Linked DNA regions of Homo sapiens: regions 2 and 3 are each linked to region 1. Evidence: fine-mapped expression QTL. A gene starts in region 1. Each other region holds a variant in brackets. All regions are shown on one strand. Distances are between the middles of the regions. Region 1 holds the start of LPXN (leupaxin). Region 2 has its middle 5.4 kb from the start of OR5B12. Region 3 has its middle 34 kb from the start of CNTF.

Region 1 (2,769 bases):
AACTTCCAGACCAGCCTGGGCAACATAGGGAGACCACCCTCTACATAAAAAATAAAAATAAAGCTTTTAAGCTAACCTGGTGGCGTGATGGGATGCACCTCTGGTCCCAGCTACTCCAGAAGCTGAGAAGGGCAAATCGCTTGAGTTCAGGAGTTCGAGTTGGAGGTTACACTGAACTATGATAGTACCTTTGCACGCCAGCCTGGGTGACAGAGAGCTTGTCTTAAAAAAAGTAAAGAAGGCTACGGTGTTGTAGAGGAAAGATCCCAGACTTTGCAATTATAGTAAGTAGCAAAGCTACCAATTAATTATCTTAGCAAGTTGCTATTACATGAACCTATTTCACCATTGGTAAAAAGGGGGAAAAAATCTATTTCACAGGGCCATAATTATAGTTCCTTACGTATTGCTTTTTTATAGTAGGCCTTTTGTAAATGTTTAATTCAAGGTGAATAAATCACAGTGGTAAAAAAGGTGAAGAGTTAACCTCAGTGTTACTTTCCAAAGAAATTGCTATAAGGCAGTGTATCTAGGCAGGGATTATGCTTAATTGAGATGCACACAGTTTAACATCTGGTGTCAAACCTGGCTTCCTTCTTTGTGACCACCCTATAGATGTTTGCTTTTGGGACCACTGAGTAAACCAGGCCCTGAGAATCCAAGCATGAATCCACTTCTGCCCTACTTTTAAGGATTTACGTTCCATGCAGGAAAGCAGATAACCATAATTTCTGAATAAATAAGACAACAAAATGAAATGGATGCTGGTCAACTCTGATGCAAATTTTAAGAAGGAGACTATGCCTCTGTGTCTCCCAGCTTCACAGAAAAAAAAAAAAGAAAAAAGAAAGATGCTCAGAGTGGGGTACCTACACTTGGAAAAAACGCAAGTATAAGTCTGCCATTCCCATGAATCCAAGATGAATCCTGGCACAGAGTAGGTCCTCAAATTTTGCAAAATTAATTTTGAATCTTTATCACCCTGGCCAATGCACTGCCATAATGCAAATCTTACTATCTACCTTTCTATGTCAGTCACATTTTTAAAACTGTGTAACCTATGAAAAAAAAAAAAAAGCTCACCAAATCAAAAGAGAGGAAGTGCTAAGCAAATACAGGAACCAAAAAGGTTTATAGAGGCTGCCTTATGCTGTCTCATCCAGTTCCTTTGCGGTCCTCTTCTTCAGCACATGCCAAAGCTGTTCCTCACGGCCTGTGAGACAAGAGCATCTTGGATGTAGGACAATGGAAGAGTTAGGTGAGTGAGGAGCCTGAGGAGAAACTCTGAGGGAGTGAAGACTTGGCTGCCATCTCCTTGTGTGGTGGGGTATACTTCTGGCTAGACTGAGGGTAGTAATGGAAGATTTTATTTTCACTTCTTTCCTGTCCTCAGCCCTGCCAAGAGTGAAGCATGAGGAACTATGATTGTTTTGGGGAACTATGGGTTCACTGTTTGCAGTGGCAAAATAGATGGAGAGTTTGGTGCTAACCGCGGAATAAACTCTTGGCAAATACTTTTGGACTGGATTGTTACTGCAGTTGTTGTCTTGTTATGGGCGTTTTGCCCTTTGGAGGTCACTGGAGATCAAGGGTGGCCACATAGCGAGACAATGCAGAGATATGATTTGAGGAGGAAAAGAAAGAGCAAAAAGGGAATTGGGGTGTTATGAGGAAGAAAAGACGGACTAGAAGTATAAGAATGAGGGATCTGTAGAGGTTGGAAAAAGGCCAGAGTGGTTTCATTTGTTCCATGTTTTAGTATTAAATCAAGAAGGCATAGCACTCTAACTCTAGTGATTTTGTTGCTAAGCTTTTTATTCAGAAGAATTCTGAAGGAAGAGATTACTAGGGCCTGAAAATATGACACCTCCTTCCACTCTAAGACAATTAAAACCAGCAGTGGAACTATTAACCATATTAACCAGAGAAATCCTGGATTTCAAACCTTTGGAGTAATGTAAGGTTTGTCATTCTTGGGACTCATTCCATAGCCTTTGCCAACATCTGTTGCCAGCATCTTAACTAACACTGAGTCACTAAACTATACCCAATTTCCAAACTGTATTAATTCCACAGTGTCCTGGTTTGGGGTGTGTTTGGGGATAGGGTATGTCAAAAGTGCAAAAAACAACAACAAAAAATATCTTGCACATTGTTACATTGTCTTAAAAAAAATGGCGTGTGATTTCAAAGCTGGAGAAACAGAGGAAAAGTAAAGGGCAAATTACCAGGAGGCAAGAGATGTTAATGAAGAGAAAAAGGTAGTGTTTAATAAATATCAAACTGCTTTGGAGGTAAAGTCTATTTTGATATTGGGCCAGACTCTTTTTTGGACTTGGGGTAGAATTCTATTTCTTATCCTACGTGAGTGCTGGGAGAATGTGAATTTCTGCTTGAGTTCTAGTAGTGCTAGGGCCTTTTTTCTTTTTCTCTTTCTTTTTTTTGGGGGGGATGGAGGGGACACCGAAAGGCTTTCATGGCAAATAATTCAAAAGGAAACTAATACTTATTTAGTAAATCAAGCAAAAACTAGACATTTTTACATATGTTAATCATTTTAGTGTCTGCAGCAACCCTCTGAAATAGGTGTTATCCACTTCTTTTTCAGATGAGAAAACTAAGAAAAACAAAATAACTTTTTCAATGTCACTGTCGGGAACACCTGACACCAAAACTAAGCAACAAGGTGCTCTCCTATTTTAGAAGTTTATTGGTTCTGGTGTCTGTCCAATGAAGTAACCCAGATTTAACAGAAACTTATATTGTTTT
Region 2 (2,769 bases), 130 kb after region 1:
ACCTCCTTGGTTAGGTATATTCCTAAGTAAAAAGTTTCAGGTATTAGGCTTAAGTCTTTAATCCATCTTGAGTTGAATTTTGTATAAGGTGAGAGATGAGGATCCAGTTTCATTCTCATACATGTGGCTAGCCAGTTATCCCAACACCACTTGTTGAAAAGAGTGTCCTTTCCCCACTTTATGTTTTTGTTTGCTTTGTTGAAAATTAGTTGGCTGTAAGTATTTGGGTTTATTTCTGGGTTCTCTATTCTGTTCCATTGGTCTATGTGCCTGTTTTTATACCAGTACCATGCTGTTTTTTGACTATGGCCTTATAGTATAGTTTGAAATCAGGTATGCCTCCAGATTTGTTCTTTTTGCTTAGTCTTGCTTTGGTTATGCAGGCACTGTTTTGGATCCATATGAATTTTAGAATTTTTTTTTTCTAATTCTGTGAAGAATGATGGTGGTATTTTTATGGGATTGCATTGAATTTGTAGATTTTTTTGGCAGAATGGTCATTTTCACAATATTGATTCTTTTGGTGTCCATTTGCATGAAATGCCTTTTTCCACCCCTTTACTTTAAGTTTATGTGAGTTATGTAAGTTTATGTGAGTCCTTATGTGTTAGCTTGGTCTCCTGAAGGCAGCAGATAGTTGATCAGGGAGTTCTTATCCATTCTGTGGTTCTGTTCAATGTTAGTATTGAAATGTGAGGTATCATTGCATTAATCGTGCTCTTTGTTGCCTGTGTGCTTTGTTTTTTGTTTTTGCTTTTTCACTTGTATTTTTGTTTTATAGGTTCTGTGTGATTTATGCTATTTTCATGTGTTTCCAGGATTTGTTTCAAGATTTAGATCTCCTTTTGGCGGTTCTTTTAGTGGTGGTTTGGTAATAGTGAATTCTCTCATCATTTGTTTGAAAAAGACTGTATCTTTCCTTCATATATGATGCTTAGTTTCACTGGATACAAAATTCTTGGCTGATAATTGTGTTTGAGGAGGCTGAAGACAGGGCCCCAATCCCTTCTAGCTTGTAGGGTTTCTGCTGAGAAATTTGCTGTTAATCTGATGGGTTTTCCTTTATACGTTACCTGATGTTTCTGTCTCACAGCTCTTCAGATTCTTTCCTTCATCTTAACTTTGGATAACCTGATGACAATGTACCTAGCTGATGATCTTTTTGAGATGAATTTCCCAGGTGTTCTCTGTGTTTCTTGTATTTGGATGTCTAGGTCTCTAGCAAGGCCAGGGAATTTTTCCTCAATTATTCCCCCAAATATGTTTTCCAAGCTTTTAGAATTCTCTTCCTCCTAATGAACACCAATTATTCTTATGTTTGGTCGTTTAACATAATCTCAGACTTCTTGGATGCTTTATTTATATTTTCTCACTCTTTTTTTTTTGTCTTTGTTGGATTGGGTTAATTCAAAGACCTTGTCTTTGAGCTCTGGATCTTTCTTCTACTTGTTCAATTCTATTGCTGAGACTTTCCAGAGCATTTCACATTTCTAAAAAATGTATCCAATGTTTCCTGAAATTTGATTGTTTTTTCTTTAAGCTATCTACTTCCTTGTGTATTTCTCCCTTCACTTCTTGTATCGTTTTTTGGATTTCCTTGCATTGGGCTTCGCCTTTCTCT[G/T]GTGCCTCCTTGATTACCTTAATAACTAACCTCCTGAATTTTTTTTCAGGTAATCAAGGATTTCTTCTTCATTTGAATCTATTATTGGTGAATTAGTGTGATTTTTTGGGAGTATTTTGTTTGGATTTTTGGAGCATATTATCAGGGCTGGTTTCCTGGTTCCTTCTCATTTGGGTAGTTTCTGTCAGAGGGAAGGTCTAGGGCTCAAGGCTGTTGTTCAGATTCTTTTGTCCCATGGGTTGTTCCCTTGATATAGTATTCTCCCTCTTTTCCTATGGATGTGGTTTCCTGTGAGCTGAGCTGCTGTGATTGTTGTCTTTCTTCTAGGTCTAGCCAACCAGTTAGTCTACCTGGCTCTGGGCTGCTACTGGGGGTTGTCTGCACAGGGTCCTGTGATGTGAACCATCTATGGATCTCTCAGCCAAGGATACCAGCACCTTCCAGTGCAAGTAGCTGGGGGCTGGGGTGGGGGTGGCGGGGCGGTGAAATGGACTCTGTGAGGATTCTTAGCTTTAGTAGTTTAATGCTCTATTTTTGTGCTTTTTGGCCTTCTGCCAGGAGGTGACACTTTCCAGAGAGCATCAGTTGTGGTAGTATGGAGAAGAACTAGTGGTAGGTGGGCCCCTAGAACTCCCAAGATTATATGCCCTTCAGCTACCACAGTGGGTAGGGAAAAACCATCAGGTGGGGCAGGGCTAGGGGTATCTGAGCTCAGACTCTCCTTGGGCGGGTCTTGCTGTGGCTTCTGTAGGGGATGGGGGTGAGATATCTCAGCTTATTGGAATTGTGTACCTAGGAGGATTATGGCAGCCTTTGCTGAGTCATGCAAGTTGTTAGGGAAGTCAGGGAAAGCCGGCAGTCACAGGCCTCACCCAGCTCCCACACAAACTGAAAGACCAGTCTCACTCCCACCATGCCCCACCCCAGCAGCCCTGAGTCTATTTTTAGGTGGTGGGGGAAACGGGCTTGAAAACTCGCCCCAGGCTACCTGCCTCCCATCTTCGAAAGAAAGGTGTTTGGTTGTTCCCCTGCCTGTGGAATCTGCACACCAGATTTGCGCCCTCCCCAAAGTTCTGGCCAGGAGGCTTCTTGCCCTGTTCAAATTGTTACAGAGCTCAGCTAAAGATTTCCTTCTCCCTGTGTAGTTT
Region 3 (2,769 bases), 81 kb before region 1:
TCCCACTTTCACGTACTGCCGACTCTGGAGAAGACCCAGGAGTTGAACACCTTTTTGAGTCTACCCGGAGTATAATCTGAAGCTACCATGAATGTGTGTGTGCAAGGGGGGCCTGTATTTCTGGATACTTTCAGCTTGATTTCAATTTGCAGATTTAAGAGGCTCCCAAAACTCGTGTATGATATTGAAACAACTTTGAATATTGGACTACAGGCCCAGGTCCACCATTGATTAATAATCCTAAACAATAACTCTGCCCAACGCTTTTCCCCTGGGTATTTTTTAGTAACTCTCACTTAGGTTCCTTGGGTCTCTGTTTCATCATTCATGAACTGATTGTTGCTTTGAAGTTTAAATAATCCAATGTGGGTAAAAGCACTTTGCAACCTGTCAAGGGTTTCTGAAGCTTAAGTTGTTGTTTCTCATGCCCAATGGAACCTACCTCCACATTTGAGGATAAAAACACTAGACTCAGTTCATGCCATTAAATTTGGTGATGATTTCTTGGAAATGATAGTTGAAGCACAGGCAACATCAACAACAAAACAAAACAAATTGGACTATATCAAAAATTTTAAGTTCTATGCATCAACAGACACAATCGATAGTGAAAAGACAACCCACAAAATGGGAGAAAATATTTTCAAATCACGTATCTAATAATGGGTTAATATTCAGAATATTTAAACGCTTACTACCAAAAAACAAAACAACCTGACTTTAAAAATAGACAAAGAACCCATTTTTTTATGTACTTATTGGTTATTTGTATATCTTCTTTGTTCTCAAACGACCAATAAGCACACGAAAAGATGCTTAACATCACTAATCATCAGGGAAATGCAGATCAAAACTACAATGAGATACCATCTCACACCCAATAAGATGGTTACTATTGAAAAACAAAACAACAGAAAAGAAGTATTGGTGAGAATGTAGAGAAATGGAAACCCTTGTGCACTGTTAATGGGAATGTGAAATGATGCAGCCACTAAGGAAAACAGTACAGAGGCTCCTCAAGAAATTAAAAATAGAACTACCACATGGCCCAGCAACTCCACTTCTGGGTATAAACCCCCAAGAATAAAAAGCAGAGTATCAAGAAGATACTTATACACTCATATTCATGGCAGCATTATTCTCAGT[A/G]GCCAAAACTGGAAGCAATCCAAGTGTCCATAGATGGATGAATGGCTAAACAAAATGTAGTATCTACATACAAAAATGATTTAGCCTTGAAATGGAAGCAAATTCTGACCTATGCTTCAGCATGGATGAACCTTGAGGCCACTATGCTAACTGAAATAAGTCAATCACAAAAAGACAAGTACTGTGTGATTCCACTTATATGAGCTACCTAGAGTAGTCAAATCCATAGGGACAGAAAGTAGAATATTTGTTGCCGGGGGCTGGAGGGAGGGAATGCGGTGTTGTTGCTTAACAGGTATGGAATTTCAGTTTTGCAAAATGGAAAGTGCTCTGGAGATTGCACAACAATGTGAACATGCTTAACACTATAGCAAGGTACCCTTAAAACTGGTTAAGATGCTAACTTCTCTGTGTTTTTTAACCACAATTAAATGCTTTTCAAAATATCAGAATATGGCAGCTGAAACAAACAATACTTTGTGCAATGTATCTATTTGCCTACCAAAGATAGAGAAGAAAAAAGGCCAGGTGCTGTGGCTCACACCTGTAATCCCAGCACTTTGGGAGGCCAAGGCAGGGGGATCACTTGAGGTCAGGAGTTCGAGACCAGCCTGTCCAACATGGTGAAACCCTGTCTCTACTAAAAATACAAAAATTAGCCAGACATGGTGGCGGGAGGTAATCCTAGCTACTAGGGAGGCTGAAGCAAGAGAATCACTTGAACCCAGGAAGTGGAGGTTGCAGTGAGCCAAGATTGTGCCACTGCAATCCAGCCAGGGCAATAGAGTGAGACTCAGTCTCTAAATAAATAAATAAATAAATAGCACTGAATTAGAGTTTCCAAACCTACCTTGCTTTGCCACTAACTTGGGGCAGAAACAATAATAATTGCTGGCATTTATGGTACACTTACCATGTGCCAGATATCATTTTAAATGTTTTATCTCATTTAATGCTTACAACAGGAAGTACTATCACGTTCCCATTTTAAAGATTAGGGAATTGAAGCAAAATAAAATTAAACAAGCTGCCCAAGGACTTATGGTTAATAAGTGAGTAGCAAAGCCAGGATTCAAACCCCACAGTCTGACTCCAGGGCTGCACTTGTAACCATTGTGCTACCTGCAGAATGGCCAGGAGCGCAGGTCCCACATGGCAATGAACCACTTCCTGTACCACCCACTTCCAAATCCAGTAGCTTCTTCATCCTAGACCTAAAGAAAGTCAAGTTCAGCTATAAACAATACAATCATTTCTTTTAAAACATCACATTCTCTCCAACATACGAAACATCTTAGGATGTATGTTTTCCTTTCACCAATCTTTTCCCTCCACACCCCTTTCTCAGCTCTTTAATCATCTTAGATTGTAAATGTGAAGCATGAGAGTAGAGAACATGAGGGCTGAAGTGGCACCAGTCTGGATGGGACCCCAACTCTATGACTTACTAGCAAGTTACTTATTGCCTCTCAGCCTCAGTTTCATCAACTCTAAAATGAGAATAGGACCTGCATCAACAGGTGGTTTTAAAGATTAAACTGTATAATATCTTAAATGTCTAGCACAGTATTTGACATAGAATGGGCTGTTTGAAGTATAATAACAATTATTGTATAGCAATAA

The links. PIP is the estimated chance that this variant, and not a neighbour inherited with it, causes the effect.
Region 2: its variant is fine-mapped to the expression of LPXN in blood mononuclear cells (TOPMed, PIP above 0.99).
Region 3: its variant is fine-mapped to the expression of LPXN in whole blood (TOPMed, PIP above 0.99).

The regions. Positions count from the first base shown.
Region 1 is chr11:58,574,249-58,577,017 of GRCh38, reverse strand. LPXN (leupaxin) reads left to right here and starts at 1,162. Exons shown (of 9, transcript NM_004811.3): 1 at 1,162-1,258. The coding sequence starts at 1,246. RefSeq lists enhancers at 1,170-1,219, 1,230-1,289.
Region 2 is chr11:58,446,229-58,448,997 of GRCh38, reverse strand. No RefSeq gene overlaps it. Among named protein-coding and RNA genes, the nearest start is that of OR5B12, 5.4 kb to the right of the region's middle. The variant G/T (reference allele first, on the strand shown) is at 1,622.
Region 3 is chr11:58,655,244-58,658,012 of GRCh38, reverse strand. No RefSeq gene overlaps it. Among named protein-coding and RNA genes, the nearest start is that of CNTF, 34 kb to the right of the region's middle. The variant A/G (reference allele first, on the strand shown) is at 1,147.